2 separate regions of the Homo sapiens genome follow, and region 1 is linked to region 2. The links come from fine-mapping of genetic effects on gene expression. Tissue or cell type: whole blood. Region 2 holds a variant in brackets; the other region holds the start of a gene. All regions are shown on one strand. Distances are between the middles of the regions.

Evidence for each region. PIP is the estimated chance that this variant, and not a neighbour inherited with it, causes the effect.
Region 1: it holds the start of SLCO5A1-AS1, and the variant in region 2 is fine-mapped to the expression of SLCO5A1-AS1 in whole blood (TOPMed, PIP above 0.99).

What each region holds. Positions count from the first base shown.
Region 1 is chr8:69,830,369-69,838,549 of GRCh38, reverse strand. SLCO5A1-AS1 (SLCO5A1 antisense RNA 1) reads right to left here and starts at 4,438. Exons shown (of 4, transcript NR_186568.1): 1 at 4,357-4,438. SLCO5A1 (solute carrier organic anion transporter family member 5A1) reads left to right here and starts at 3,572. Exons shown (of 10, transcript NM_030958.3): 1 at 3,572-3,696; 2 at 5,381-6,783. The coding sequence starts at 5,877. RefSeq lists silencers at 3,307-3,416, 5,507-5,596 and enhancers at 3,737-3,816, 5,247-5,316.
Region 2 is chr8:69,744,292-69,752,472 of GRCh38, reverse strand. The region is part of intron 4 of SLCO5A1 (solute carrier organic anion transporter family member 5A1); the gene reads left to right. Among named protein-coding and RNA genes, the nearest start is that of SLCO5A1-AS1, 86 kb to the left of the region's middle. The variant C/T (reference allele first, on the strand shown) is at 3,586.

The DNA of each region.
Region 1 (8,181 bases), 86 kb before region 2:
GGCATATGCCACCATGCCTGGCTATTTAAAAAAAATTTTTTTTTAGTGGAAATGTGTTCTCAAGGGATCCTCCCATCTCAGCCTCTTAAAGTGCTGGGGTTACAGGTGTGAGCCACAGTACCCAGCTAATCTGGCTTAATTATATTAAGGGAGGTGGCAGTTTCTTTATAGGGAGCCAAGCCTCCAGGTGTTCATGGAACTGTGGTTTCTTGGGGGTGTGGGACTTGCAGTGCTAAGTCTCTTTGGACACAGTTGGTCACTATACTCCTTTAGCACTTGCAGGGCCCTCAAGCCACCAGGGCTGGAGTGATTGCCTGCATTCATTGTACCCCAGGGCCAGATCTGTTCCTTCTCAGGTTTTACCCAACCTGAAATTCACTTCTAAGGAAGGATATACATGCCAAGTTCTATTAAGGGGCTACCTTAAAGATACAATGTGTCTCCTCTTAAACAACCAACACCTAATTCAATTATGTTACTGGCAACTATGTATTATGTTTTGCACCCACAAAATATTCTGAACCAAAAACTCAGTTCTTGTTGTATCTGGGAGACCTCTGAAGTGAACCTTCTTTAAGAAGGAAGGGAAGGGCTGTGGGAAAAGGCTCCCTTCAGCTTTCTTCTGCCCATTCTCCAGGACGGCCAGATTTTAAACCTGTAGACTGCCCTGGAAATTGCAAAGGCTACATACTTGTTATATGAAGATCAGGAAAGAAATCATTTATTTATTTATTTATTTATTTATTTTTAAAAAGAAGTCATTTATGTATAAAGTCGATGGACTTAGAAGAAGCAAACGTAAGTCTGAAAGTTTGAAGAGGGTTTACAGTCATATGCTTCCTCTCCCAAAATGCCAAACAAGGCAGGCATTCTGGTTAAAGTAACTGTAATTATTGAGTGAAATAAGGATAGTAAACACTACCATAGGGGTAGTAGAACCCCGTGATATGAGTCCATTTCTTTGTATTAATCAGACAATTACGGCTAATGAGGTGTGCTCTTCTTTTTCAAAGTCATATTTAACTGGGAAAGATAAAGCAAAAGAAATGCTTCTTGCTGAATGTTTTCTTCTTGTTTCCTATGTGAGTAAAATTGGACCTTTTAAAATTTTGTCTTTTTTAAAGTCATATTTAACTGGGAAAGATAAAGCAAAAGAAATGCTTCTTGCTGAATGTTTTCTTCTTCTTTTGTGAGTAAAATTGGACCTTTTAAAATTTTGTCTTTTTTAAAGTCATATTTAACTGGGAAAGATAAAGCAAAAGAAATGCTTCTTGCTGAATGTTTTCTTCTTCTTATGTGAGTAAAATTGGACCTTTTAAAATTTTGCTGTAAATCATGATCTATTAGTGGCAATAAAAAAATCCATAGGTTCTTAGAGTTGCATCTACTTTACGGTAACTGAGCATGAATAAAGACAGAGTGTTTCAGGGACACGATTGCTTGATTTTCAAGTAGGGAAGTCCTGTGATGTCCCCTGATGTATCACATTGAATTCACTGATGTCTGGAGCTGAGACTGAAATGAGAGAATGGGACACAGAGCTTGGAAGGAGGTAATAGGAGGTAGGTTGATTCTGTGTGGATTTAGAATCAGCTCAGAAGAGTATTTGGGTTCAGGAAGTGCCACGTATCTTTGCTCACTTTATCAGCAGTAGAGGACTAAAATCTGGGCAGGGTGGCAGCGGGAGTCCTATTGCCTGTTTGTAGAAAAGTGACTGTGCCTGATGGCGATCTCAAGAGGAGGAGACAATGGCAGGGAATGAAGAAATGCCTCGGTTGATAGGTCAGTCTTGCAGCTGCCAGAAGATTGATGCTCTCTCAGCATGGACTTCAAATACACACTGATTGTTCTTTACTGTCAACTGGCCTTAATTGTTCTCTAAGGATCGCTGTAGATACGACGGTTGTTGGACTAAAGGGAGATAATCAAAAGAATCAAGGTGCATTGACGAGTCAGGATGTTATTCAATGGCAGGAGAGAGGGTAGAGAGTCAGGGTTAAGAGGTTAAGTAAGAACATAGTCTTTTGGAGCACATTGGTTCATATTGTCTACAGAGCAGCTGTGTGCCTATATAAAGTTACTTAACCTCTCTACACTTATCACATCTGTAAAATGGAGACAATGCTTTCATTGGGCAAGGCCAAGGGCCAGTGGAGGGGCTTCGACCTGGCAGCAATGGCCAGCATGGTCACTGGTACTTGTGAGCAACCTCCTTTCCTCCATTAGAGCACTATCCTGCTCTGTCAATGGTCACAAGTGCCCTCAGATACTCTTTTTTTTTTTTTTTTTCAGTTATCATCCTGTTTGTCTTCCCTGCAGCCTGTACACATCTGACCCTTCCCTTCTTACAGTCGTCTGCTCTTTTGGCTTTTCTGATGCGTCCCACACCTCTCTGACCCTTGCTTCCAGTCTCCTTCCTTTGGCTGTACGCTGTCCTCCTAGATTCTTCACAATTTGGATGATCTTCCCTATTCATTCCATCCTTTCTCATGCCACCTTTGGGCTGATGACTACTGATCAATATTCCTAGTCCAAACCTCCTGTGTGTCCAGTGGCTTATGGGACACGTACACTGGGATGTCCCCCAAACATTTCAAACTCAACACATGTAGATGAGAACAATCTTTCTCCTAAAGCATGTTTCTCCACCTGTGCTTTTATTGGCTGTCAGGCACGTAGTCACCCAACTTGGTGCTAGAAACTTGGGAGTCATCCTACCTCGGCTGGTTTTCTTCTCTTGCAGATTGCATCAGCTGCCCAGTTCCCTCCTCTCCATGCCCCCTGCCAATGCCTCATCACATTTTGCTTTCAGACTGCCTCCCAACTCACTTCTGTGCCCGCAGTGTGGCCTCACATCTGTCTACCTGTCACTGCCAGAGCCAGCTCTCTGGTGAGGAAGTCAGAACGTCATTGCCCCCACATTATTGACAGTACACAACTTAGGAAACCCGTAGTGCCCCTTTCTACTCAGCCACTCTTGCAGTCTGGTCCTCTGCCCCATCCCTGCAATCTTCTAGGAAGCTTATCTACCTATTGACTGGCAGCACCATGCCCCCGTGCCTCTGTTCTTCCTGCTGCGTGGAAATGAAGGCTAATGGATATTGGCTACTCCAGTAGCAGGCTGCATAGATGTACCACGTTGTTTTAAGCCATTTACATGAGTATTTCCCCCACAAGCCAGAGGTTTCCTCCGACCAAGTATCTTGTCTTGTTTATCTTTGGTCCCAGAATCTACTATGGTGAATGAGACATGGTGTGTGCCCAAGGCACGGAATAAACGATCAGAAATGATTTATTTATTCAGAGTGGGCTGTCAGCTTCAGCCGCTGACTTTTCTAGAGACCGGCTCCCTCGGGGCTTCAGCGCTCTTGGGCCCCCGCAGCCACGCAGGTGAAGGGCAGCGGGGTGGCTGGCTGTGGGAGGGCTGGGCTGGGTGGCTGCCCTCGCGCCTGCGCCCTCGGCTGCTCCTCTCCGGGCGCGTCTCTGTGCGCGTGTGTCTGTTTGGAGCGGAGGAGAGGCTTGGGTGACAGGCGAGGGGTGGGGGGAAGAGTTCAGCCTGAGTCACAGTCTCATTCACTGATTTCTCTTCGGCTGGACGGAGGCTGCCTCCTCACGCGGCTCCCAACTATTCCCGTAGCTCAGTGCCCCCCTCCCGCCGCTCTACTCAGCCAGGCAGACAGACTGACAGACTCGCTAGTGAGTAGCGGCGGCTTGAGCGCCCGGGCAGCGCGGCGGGCTGTCGCCGGCGGTCTTGTCTTCCCACGGGCTCTGTGTGTGTGTGTGTGTGTGTGTGTGTGTGTGTGTGTGTGTGTGTAGGATGTGCGTGTATGTGATGTGCGCGCAGGGGGTGTCCCTGGGATTCCACGCCTGCTCCAAGAGCTCCCTGCCGGGATCCGCGTGTCCATCCGAGTCTGCGATGCTGTGAGGGCGCTCGCCTAAGCAGGGGGTTCGGACGCCCCCCGCGAGCGGCGAGAGTTTGCTGGGATTCCCCGGCTCCTCACGCAGCGGCTGGTGGGGTTCCCCGGGAAGGCGCCTGGGTAAGGCAGCGGCGGGGAAGCCCGGGATTGTGAGTGGCTGGCAGGCCGGGAATCTGGGAGCGGGTTTGGCCCAGCACAGCCGAGGGAGATGCCGGAGCGGCCACCCTTGGCCGCCCAGCCTCTCTGCCTTTCTCCCTTGCCCTTCCTCCTTTCTTTTCTCAGCAGCATCACAAAGGCGCGCTGCAAAATGAAACCCAGTGTAGTGAAGCTCGGCTGTCTCCCACCTGGTGCATATTCCGCCCCCCGTCCTTGCCCCAGGCTGGAGGAGTGGAGTGGGGGTCCCCAAGATTAGGGGCGGGGTCTTACCACGGGGGCACACCTGTTTTCGATTCTTGCTGAATTCAAGCTGGGTGCGGGATCGCGAGAGAGGTTCCAGTACGCCGGTGTGTGTGTGTGTGTGTGTGTGTGTGTGTGTGTGTGTGTGTGGCCGCGCACGCGCACACGCTCCCCAGGCCCACGCTAGCGGGGTGCGCTCAGTCAATAGCACACCTCCCCGCCGGCCCGCGTGCGCCCAGCCGGCTCCGTGGGCTCCTCGCGCGCTCTCTGACAGCGTGCCGGGATCTCTTTGTTTGGTTGTGGCTTCCCTAGCTCTCGGCAAAGCAGACGGATTTTCGGTTTCGTTTGATACCGCGCTCTGGGACTTAGTGCGGGCCACAGCCTCGAATGCCCCTGGTATTTGTAATTGAAGAGTTCTTTCGGTCAGGGGGTTATTTTTGGTGTTGGGAATAAAGAGGCAAGCATGTTGACCTTTTTGCTGCTGCCTTCGGCTTTGAATGTGTGTCTCTGGTGGAGCAGACAGATTCAAATCTAGTCGCGCACACGTGCCAACGCACACCAGTGTGCACACACATTTCTACACACGTAGTTTACCCCCACCTTCTTTTTTCCTTTTAGAAAAATTGGGACAGGGAATACATTGTGTGTCTGTGAAAAAGTTTCCTTTGTTCTTTTGGGCATTTTCTATTTTGAGTAATGGAGTAGGAGTACGGAAAGGCTGCAGTTAGTTCACTCGATTAAAAGACACTGCCTCTGAGTCAGAGCTGCCAGGTTGATAATTATTAACATATAAAAGCAAACGCAATGTTTAAGGCAGAAGGGGCGGGACGGGGGCAGGTCCGCGGCAGACAATGAGGGAGAGTCTCCGCCGACCGCCTGCTGCTTATTGTTCCGGGACTGGAGACTGCAGCCGGCTGCTGCCTAGTCCTCCGGGGCTCCGCTCCTGACTAGCTCCTCCGTCCCTCTAGGGACGGTTCGGGGTCACCTAACCCTGGTCCCCGGGGCGCTGGGACGCTAGCCCCAAGCCGCAGCCGCTCTTCGCTGACCGCCCTCTTTCTGCTTTGCAGGTCGGCAGCTTCACTCCCGAGGGTGCCGCGAGCCCAGGCGGCGAACACCCGGTACCCCTGGCGCAGCGAGGTGGGATGCTGTACGGACAGCAGCGCTAAGTGCCCCCCCACCCCCGGCGCAGGGTGCACTCGCTCCTGGCCGCGGGCCCAGCGGCGGCGGCGGCGGCGGCGGCGGAGGGGATGAGCCCGGGACGCGCGAGGCGCCTGCCTCAAGCTACCGCCCGGAGAGGGACGCCGAGTAGGGCTCATCGCAGTACCGCGCGGACCCCTGCCCCCTGTGGCACGCGGCTGCGGAGCCTTGAAGCCGTGTCTGTGATCAGGATGCACTGGGCGCCTCGCAGCTGGTGAGGATGCCCTGCTGCGCGGCCCTGCGCCCCCAGCCCCAGTCCCAGGTGGGCAAGACTGACTGGGCCCGGCTTCGGCCCCTCGTGCCGGTGGATGAAACGTGCCGGAGTGCTTGGGTGCCATCAGCTATCAAATCTGAATTCTAAGCGCCATGGACGAAGGCACTGGACTGCAGCCCGGGGCGGGAGAGCAGCTGGAGGCGCCGGCCACTGCAGAAGCTGTCCAAGAGAGGTGCGAGCCGGAGACCCTCAGGTCTAAGAGTTTACCGGTCCTCAGCAGCGCCTCCTGCCGGCCAAGCCTCAGTCCCACTAGTGGAGACGCCAACCCGGCCTTTGGCTGTGTGGATTCTTCGGGCCACCAGGAGTTGAAGCAAGGCCCGAACCCGTTGGCCCCCAGTCCCTCTGCCCCGTCCACTTCGGCGGGGCTCGGGGACTGTAACCACAGGGTGGACCTCAGCAAAACCTTCTCGGTGTCCTCCGCCTTGGCCATGCTCCAGGAGAGAAGGTGCCTCTACGTGGTCCTCACGGATTCCCGTTGCTTCCTGGTGTGCATGTGCTTTCTGACCTTCATCCAGGCGTTAATGGTCTCTGGGTACCTGAGCAGCGTAATTACCACCATTGAAAGGCGCTACAGTCTGAAGAGTTCCGAGTCGGGGCTGCTGGTCAGCTGCTTTGACATCGGGAACCTGGTGGTGGTGGTGTTCGTCAGCTACTTCGGCGGCCGGGGTCGGCGGCCCCTGTGGCTGGCCGTGGGTGGACTCCTCATCGCCTTCGGGGCAGCCCTCTTCGCCTTACCTCACTTCATCTCGCCCCCCTACCAGATCCAAGAGTTGAACGCCTCGGCCCCCAACGACGGCCTGTGTCAGGGTGGCAACTCCACCGCCACTTTGGAGCCTCCGGCCTGTCCGAAGGACTCGGGAGGAAATAATCACTGGGTCTACGTGGCTTTATTCATTTGCGCGCAGATTCTCATTGGAATGGGCTCCACACCTATTTATACCCTGGGACCAACCTACTTAGATGACAATGTCAAGAAAGAAAACTCCTCCTTGTACCTAGGTAAGACTTTCCTGTTCTCTCAGATATGTTTCACTCACACTGAAACTTACTTTCCTTACAAAAATCAAAAGGAAACATGTTCTTTCACATTTTCATGTATATTATAGATTAAAGTTCACTTTATTTTACGTTTTAGCCTTGCTGTAGTGTGTTTTCAGTTTGGGAGAGAATCAATTAGTTGAGAGTTCTTGAAACTAATTTTCAGACTCATACTTCATGTTTGTCTTTTCCCAAGTAACATAAACTTTAAACTGTGGGGTGATGCTTCTCTCTGTTGCTACCTACCTATGGAAAAGCTCCAATTTGTCAAGTTTATATTCTAATACACTTGTTGAGGAAGGAATAGCAGTACCTCATGTGTAAAGTTTTGATGATTTTCTGCTTCTATCTGCTGCTGCTTCTGATTTCTGTCCAGAGCAGCAGGGATGGTGGCGTGGCCAGACTACATACATCATGCTTTATTGCCTTCATACCTGTGTTTCTTTTCTTTTTTTTTTTTTTCTTTTTAAGATGGAGTCTTGCTCTGTCACCCAGGCTGGAGTGCAATGGCATGATCTCAGCTCACTGCAACCTCCGCCTCCTGGGTTCAAGTGATTCTTCTGCCTCAGCCCCCGAGTAGCTGGGATCACAGGTACCCATCATGCCTGGCTAATTTTTGTAGAGATGGGGTTTCACCATGTTTGTCAGGCTGGTCTTGAACTCTTGACCTCAGGTGATCCACCCTCCTTGGTCTCCCAAAGTGCTGGGATTCATACCTGTTTTTCTTATACGTCACCTGCACCACTATCTAAAAACAACAACAAAAATTTGAATAATGTCAAATGACTGGCTTACCTTTATGAAGAAGCAACACCACAGGTTATAAGGTTTATCCAAAGCTATTTTTATTGCTGTCAAAAACCCTCAATTGTATGAACTTGGGAGAAGAATCCATTCCTATTTTTCTGAAAAGCCGTGGCTGTGGGATTTGGTGTGTTGACTTGCATAAGTCAGCATCAGTGGACAGGGGTGCTTGAGTTAAGTACAGGGGGCTCATCTGAGGCCAGGCAGCAGTTGCAGAGGGTATGAAAATTTACATCCTAGAAATTTGAGGTTGTTAGCACCTCCCTGTAGTAGCTGGTTCTTAAAAACTGAACTTCTAAGGGATGGATTTGAACCCATAAGAAGGATCAATGGCTGTCATACCAGATGAGATTTTTGTTTTTCTATTTCTGTACTGGAGTGCAACCTAAACAAGCTAAAGGATTTTACTTTACTGAAAAAACTGAAATGGAAGCTGGGTGTGGTGGTGTGTGCCTGTAGTCCCAGCTACTCGGGAGGCTGAGGCAGGAGGATTGCTTGAACCCAGGGACTTGAGACCAGCCTGGGAAACATAGTGAGACCCCATCTCTTAAAAAA
Region 2 (8,181 bases):
GAATCATTCTGCTATTGACATCACTTTTTTTTTTTTAACAAAGCTGAGATTTATTATTGAGGTTACTTTTTAACAAAGCTGAGATTTATTATTGAGGTCTTGCCTTAAAAAATGATTCATAGAAAAGTCCATTTTGAGTTAAATCTGAGTTTGAGTCCCAGATCCTTTTTTCCCTTCTATTTTCTGGAGTAGGGCTTCTTTTGGTCTTAATTTTTAAAATTTTTATTCTATTTTAGTTTATTGAGACAGAGTCTCTCTCTGTCACCCAGGCTGGAGTGCAGTGGTGTGATCTTGGCTCGCTGCAGCCTCAACCTCCCAGGCTCAAGTGATCCTTCCTGGCTCAGCTCCCCAGTAGCTGGGGCTACAGGCCTGTGCCACCACACCTAGGTAATTTTTGCATCTTTTGTACAGATGGGGTTTTACCATGTTTCACAGGCTGATCTAGAACTCCTGGACCCAAGGGATCTGCCTGCCTCAGCCTCCCAACGTGCTGGGATTACAGGTGTGAGCCACCACGCTTGGCTTTTTGGTCTTTACTTTATATTTGAAATTTGGATACCAATATTAGTACCTTCAAAGAGGAGGTAGAAGTTGGTAACTTATACTTCCTTAAACAGAAAACTATTGGCCAGGTGCAGTGGCTTATGCCTGTAATCCCAGAACTTTAGGAGGCCAAGGTGGGCGGATTACCTGAGGTCAGGAGTTCGAGACCAACCTGGCCAACATGGCAAAACCGAGTCTCTACTTAAAATAAAAAAATTAGATGGGCGTTGTGGTGAGCACCTGTAATCCCAGCTACTTTGGAGGCTGAGACAGGAGAATCGCTTGAACCGGGAGGTGGAGGTTGCAGTGAGCCAAGATTGTGCCACTGCACTCAAGCCTGAGTGACAGAGGCAAGACTGCGTCTCACGAAAAAAAAAAAAAAGAAAATTATTTGAGCCATACAGAATGGCGCCCTTTTGGGAAGTTCTATTGTAGAGAATGATAGAAGAAAATATACTCCACCTCCACATTTTAATGACAGACATTGAGAAAATCTGACTCAGTGTTTTCATACTCTTATTATAAATTATGCAGGAATAACACTGATTTAAGACACCGCAAAGGGGAAAGTAGAATTCTCAGTATATCTGCATTACATTCCACAAAGAAATTAGCATTGATTCCATCAAAAATCTTACCAATAAAAATAAACACTTAAAATATTTAAGTGAATCCATTTTCCTGAGGTTTGAGGTCCAGCATTTTAAAGCATTCCAAATTTAACTGGGCAGCCTTCTATCTAAAAAACTTTTGGTGGCAGTTAATCATAAGAATGATTTTACTTTCTATGTCCACTTTTTAATCTTTGAAGCTTAATTGCTTAGTATTATTTATTAAGCATAAAATGTAACAGAGATTTCTCTGCTAGGATTTTGTCTGTTAGAGTGCAATATATTTAAAATCCTAACTAAATAAAATAGTTACCCTGAGGTGATAAACTGATTTAAAGAGGCTACTGAAAGTTGGAGAATTTTGCTCATGGAAGGATAATGTTGGCATCATTGAATTCACTGAATGTTCACTCTATAGAGGGTGCTGTACTCCATGCTTTAGTTATACAGTTGAGTGAGCCATGGTTTACCCTCCAAGAGCTTAGAGTCCACTGAGGGAGCCAGGACAAATACAGATGGAAATGTATTAAAGGCCATAAGAAGAGAACAGGTGCAAAGCTGTGGAGGTTCAAGGCTGCAGAAGGAGCATCCAGTTGAGGGATCAGGAAAAGTTATATGGAGGAGGTGGCATTTGAGATGAACCTTGAAAGACTGGGAGGATTTCAGTAGGTGGAGGCGGGTGTCAGGAATGTTCAGGCAGAGAGAGCAAAGGCCAGAAAACTGGGACTGTGTAGATGTATTTGAATGTGCTGAACAAGCGTTTTGTGGTTGGTCTGTTGGACATATGTGGCAGAGGCCTGGGAGATGAGGTTGGGAAGGTCAAGCAGGGCACATGGTGGAGAGCGTGAGTTCTAGTGTGAGTTCTTCGATTTCTTTTCTAACGGGGAATGGGGAGGTTTGAGTCGGTGTTTGGTAGCACTCAAAGAGGTAGATTAGGGAGGAGGAGGAGCAGATTGTCAGGAAGGGGCACAGGTAGACAGCTGCAGACAGAGCCCAGTGGAGAGGTTTCGACTAGTAGAGAAGGAAAGGACAGCAGCCTGCTAAACTGGCCCTGCTGCATCGACCCTTGCCCCCTTTCTACCTGCCTTCCCTTCAGCAGCCAGAAATGTTAAAATGCCAATCCTTTGCTCAAAGCTCTGTGGTCTCCCAGCTCATTCATAGAAAAGTCCACTCCTTTATGACCTATGATTTAACCCCTGGTTACCTCTTCGACTTTATCTCCTTTCAGTCCCACTTGTTTATTGTGTGTTCTGCTTCAGCCCCACTGGGCTCATTGTTGGTCCTCAAACGTGCCAGAGAGTCTCACCCCAGGACTTTTACACTTGCCACGCTTGTGCTGGGAATGTTCTCTCACTTCCCTCAGTGCACTTCTCACGTGGCCCCTTATCAGTGAGCCCTTCCTTAGCCACCCTGTTAAAAATCTCTGACCTCTCCTTCAAGGCTTCTTACCTCCATCCTGCCTTTAGTGTTCTCCTTAGCACCCATCACTCACTCACCTACCATGGATTTTACTTACTTATTTATTGTCTCCCCAATGAGAAAGTAAGCTCCATGAAGACAGGAATGTTTTTTTTTTTTTGTCCATTACATTTCCTGCTAAGTTTACACCACCTAGTAGGTACATAGTAAATATTTGATGAATGAATTATTGAATGAGAAAAAGAGGTCATTTCTTTTTCTTTTTCTTTTTTTTTTGAGACTGTCTTGCTTTGTCTCACTCTGTCTTGCTCTGGAGTGCAGTGGCGTGATCTCTGCTCACTGCAACCTCCGCCTCCAAGGCTCAAGTGATTCTCCTGCCTCAGCCTCCTGAGTAGTTGGGATTACAGGCACCCACCCCCACACCTGGCTAATTTTTGTATTTTTAGTAAAGATGGGGTTTCACCATGTTGGCCAGGCTGGTCTTGAACTCCTGACCTCAGATGATCCATTGCCTCGGCCTCCCAAAATGTTGGGATTACAGGTGTGAGCCACTGCGCCCGGTGAAACAGGTCATTTCTTTAGGGTGTGACAACTGATATGGGAATGATGGAGAGAGATACCAGAGGTGATTATAGGGTTTGAACCTCAGATAATGGGGAGAGGAACTAGTTGAGAGAAGCAGAAGGAATAGATTCTGAACTTGAGCTGCCTAAGAACACCCAGAACCATTGCATATGCTCCTTTGCTAGGTGTTTTGGAACAAGTATAGTATGAATGTGTCCAGGTCAGTTTTTGACGCAGCAAAGAGGGATCACTAAAAGCTACATGCCTGGGCCCTGTGCTCTTAGTCTTCTTGCATACTGCCTTTGCTAAATAGCACTTTAATTTTGTGTTTGCAGTTTTATTGAAAGCTGCTGCTTGAATTCCCCATACTTGCCATAGGATGGTTGCTCAGTGCCCTTTATATAAAACCCCTTTCTTTGGATCATTGGTTCTCAAACCCAGCCTACAA[C/T]AGCATCACCACAAAGGCTCCCTAAAACCCAGGTCTTTAGGCCCCAGTCCACAGTCTCCGATTCAGTAGGTCTGGAGTGCGGCCTGAGAATGAGCATTTTTTAACAATTTCCCAGATGATACTGAAGCTGTTGGTCCAGGAACTGCACTGTGAAAACCACAGCTCCAGAACATAGTTAGGAAAAACTTTGTTTTCCAGGAAGAAAGTAGAATGTTTCTGTGTTTCTGATAATGATGATTATATAGCTTTTTGCTTTGATGGCCAGGAAAGTCAGAGTCAAATCTAAAACCCAGGAAAAGTCTTATGGCCACATTTAATTCTTTCTCCCGGTTTGGATGCTCTGCTCTATTTATGTTTTCTGTGTATCGAATTATTTGTTTCTTTCCTGTCTATTATTTTATTGTATGTATGATTTCTGGTAGTAAGCCACATCTTTAGATTTGGACTTGCAGCTTAGGAGGTGAAAGGTAAATGGTAACAGTCCAGGCAGAGAAACCCTGAAAAAGAAAGCTCTTTCTCTATACTCAGCAAAATAACTGTGGGGTGACTCATCAAAGTAGCATCTCCTTAGAAAGATATGTGAACATACTCATGAGTGCTGATTTAAACAAGCAAGGTAGTACTGTGGCCAGGAGCCACTAATGATGTATTTTAGGCCCTGGCAGCCATGTGTACCCCCTTGTCGTAGGCAAGTGTCTCAGGCTCAATGTGCTAAGCTGCCAGGTGACTGTGGCGTGCTAGTGTCATCTAGCTCCTGTCTTTTCCAGGCAAGCAGCAAATGCCATTTGCTGGTGTGTTTTGGAGGGGAGGGAGGACTTAGAGTACCTTCATGGGGCCTTATGATTGGGAAACCCGTGGGATCATTTCTTTCAAAGAAAATGAGCAGGAAATGAGGGCACATAGGTCCTGTGTTGGCCATGTTGCATATGATAAGCAGTCTTGGTTTTGCTTTTACAGAAAACCCTGACTAAAAATAGTTTGATTCTTCTGGATAACAGCATGGAAAAGTTGTATCTGCCAAATGCTCAAGAACATACAGGATCATGCAAGATTCACAGGCCATAGAAGTTACTAAGGTTTTCACTGCAGGACGATCATATTTTTTCACCAGCTTTTTGACGCACCAGAAGGCTTTAAAGAATAAAAATGACAGGAACTGCAAGATTAGAGATAATGGAACATTTAAATACAGTCATCCCTTGGTATCCACGGGGGATGGGTTCCAGAACTCCTTGGTGGATACCAAAATCCACGATGCTCAAGTCTCTGATATAAAAATGGTGCAGTATTTGCATATAAGCTACGCACATCCTCTGGTATACTTTAAATCATCTCTTGTTACTTATAATACCTAATACAATGTTAATGCTATGTAAATAGTTGTTATATGGTCTTGATTAGGGAATAAGGATAATAAAAAAGTCTGATGTGTTCAATACAGATGCACCCATTCATTTTTTTTTTCTGAGTATTTTCAATCTGTGGTTGGTTGAATCCATGGATGCAGAATCCATGGATGCAGAATCCATGGATATAGAGGACCAACTGCACTTTAAGTACTCATAAAAGAAGAGGATCAAGAAGTTTCATGAGATGTTAAAGGCTGTTCAATAATTTGCACCCATGGGATTTTAACTTATAGAGATGTCTGAGTGATGATATGACGAGGTTAATACCGCTGGTAGAATAAATTACTTACACTTCCTAAGAGAAGGGGGCATGCCTTGCCATGCAGGGCCACAGGGGGAGCATCAGGTTGGTCAGGAGGCAGAATCGGAGCAAGGCCAGAGTCTAGGCCACAGCCTTTGTTGGGATATCCTTGGGAAAGAGCTTAGGATTGGCTAGTTTGAATAATGTCCACAGGCTGTGGGCTATAAGGATGATCTCCAGTTGTCTGGTACCTGACCCTGGGTGATTTAGGACAGGTGAAGTGTGTGTGAGTTAGATAAGGAGGTGGTTGGGGCTACCAACTTGGGATTGGTTGGTTTGCTTATGAAAGGTATGCTCGCAGTGGCAGCTGAGCCCAATGCTATCTCTAAGAAGTGGCTATAGTCCTGGGAGGGCAGTCTCTCGCTGGCTGGCAAGCTTTTTAAGAAGTCAAAGCATTATAAAATATAGAAATTTATAAACATGATTAATATGGAAGCTTATGTGTTCTAGCTGGAGTATCTGCTCACTGGCCTCCTTCGGCCATAATTATCACGTGGTGTTCCCTCTGCCTTTCTTTATTACACCACTTTTCATCCTCCCCCTTGAGGAGGCCTTTCCTATGCCCTCAAGGCAAAGGCCTTGGTACTGCCCATGTGCTTTGCAAAGCACCCTGTATTTTGGCAGTATCACATTATTTTAAAATTTATCAATAAAAATCCCCATCTTTTATATAACTATGACCTTCTACTCTGGTTGCTTTCATCTTCACTCTTGGTCTCTGTGCCCAATGTGAATTTTATGCCTTGTTTGACTTTAGTCCCTTTAAGCTGCCTTTGTCTGCTTGTTCGATCACTCTTCTCTCAAAATGTACTTTTATATAAGAAATGGGTGTTATTTAAGACTTTTAGGAAAGGACTAGATGGGTTTCCAAATGGAGCCCAATAATTTAAGTATTGAGATAAATGCCTGGCAATATCTATCCTAAGGAAATTTCTTTTTTTATTTTTCTTTCTTTTTCACAAATATCTTTATTGGACAATCACTACAGGACTAAGAACTCAGGATGCATACATGAAAAGTTACAGACCTTGCCCTCAAAGGGAGGCAGAAAAGAAAGTAGACACAATATTAATATGTTAAGTCCTAAAATGGAGATATGCACATTCTAAGAAGGTGGAAGGAAGAGGAGGAAGGAATCCATGTTGGCTGCCTGAGTCAGGGAGGACGTTCAGGGTTGACACATTTCTGCATCCTTTTAAAATTGCAGCTTTTAAAACAAGATCCTAAAAGTAATACATGTTCATGACAGAAAATTTAGAGAATAAAATAAAAGTGAATTCCAATCCCATTTCTGAAAATAAAATGCTTAACTTTTTTTAATAGTAAGAAAGTATTTATATTTTGAAACTAGATAGATGTGGTGGTTGCACAACATCGTGACTGTACTAAATTCCACTAACATTTTTACTTTAAAATAGTTAATTTTATATTCTGTGAATTTTGGCACAATAAATTATTTTTTTAAAAGGGTATGTATTTTAGTGGAATTTAAACATTAGGAAAATAAACTGCCTGGGCTACTAAATTTTAGATAAATGTTAGTATGTGTGGATATATCCATGTCAAAAATTATGAAAAGCATTAAGAGGGGCCAGTATGTTTGTTTGGTATTTAATACTCATAATTTATACCTGGGTAGAAATGTACATTTTGGGGTAATAAAATTTAGTCAACTGCTTCATAGTAATACTAACTTATCTATTTTGTATAATAATAAAACAAGCAGTAGTCCTCATCCCACCCCCAGTTTAAATTTTAAAAAAAGATGTAAAAGGAACAAAATTAATAGCTTATGTTTACTTTTAGAAGGGCTCTTTAGAAGAACATAAAAGAAATGTTGGTGTGGATGCACAATGTCGGTGGGTAAAAACAAACACACAAACAACACATCCTGGGGAAGGAATTTTCTTGCAACCAGAAAAAAAAACTAATCAGAAAATTAATGAAGGTTAAAAAAGATGGTGAAAAACTAATTAGCACACAGAAATTAGTATTCCTAATTATGATTTTGAATCTTGAAGAAAATGTCAGATTATGCTATGCATTCACTAGTATTACCAGTTAATACAACAAAAATATTTAAAGCTTTGTTGCTTAAAGAGGCAATCACTCAGAAATCTGAAAAATTAAGCATATCTCTTTCCCAGATATGCTGGATAAAGGACAATATTGTATATTTTCTGTTTCTCCTGTTAGTATTTTAATTCTTCTTTAATGGACATTTTAGTTTATAATCTTATCTGATGCCATTAAGGATTCTTTAGCATTAAAGAACCATACTTTTAAAAGGAGCATAATTTTCTATTTTCAGTGAGTTCACCACTGTGGACCACCTTTCATCTTATGACTTATGCTTTCTTAGCTCTTAACCTGCTCCCCAGGAGGAAATTATGTCTCTTTGGAATGGACTCCATTTTTTCACAAGTATATGGCTATTGCTTTAGTACAAATTATTGCAGTGATATAATAAAGAATGTTAATAAATGCATTCCAAGTATATTTTTTGAGTGCCTCCTATAGGCCAGATGAATGCTGGGAGCTGAAGATGTACAGATACCCCAAGGTCCTGCAGTCATAGCTTTTATAGTCTCCTGAAAGGAACAGACAGGTAAACACATGCAGCTACCTAAGAATTGATGACTAGAGCTATGGACCAAGTACATGGGAGCACAGAGAGGGAGCCCCCTAGACTGTCTAGAGAAGCTGTGGATGCTTCCTACAGGGGCAGATGCCAATCCTGAAAGTTGATGGATGAGTTTGACATTTGCCAAGGAGATAGGTGGGGAATACCACAAATAGTACAGAGATGAAGAAGACCATGCCATGGATGAAGCTTGGGGCAGGGCAACCGTAGGACTACAGAGTGGAAGGGCAGGCAGCAGCCCG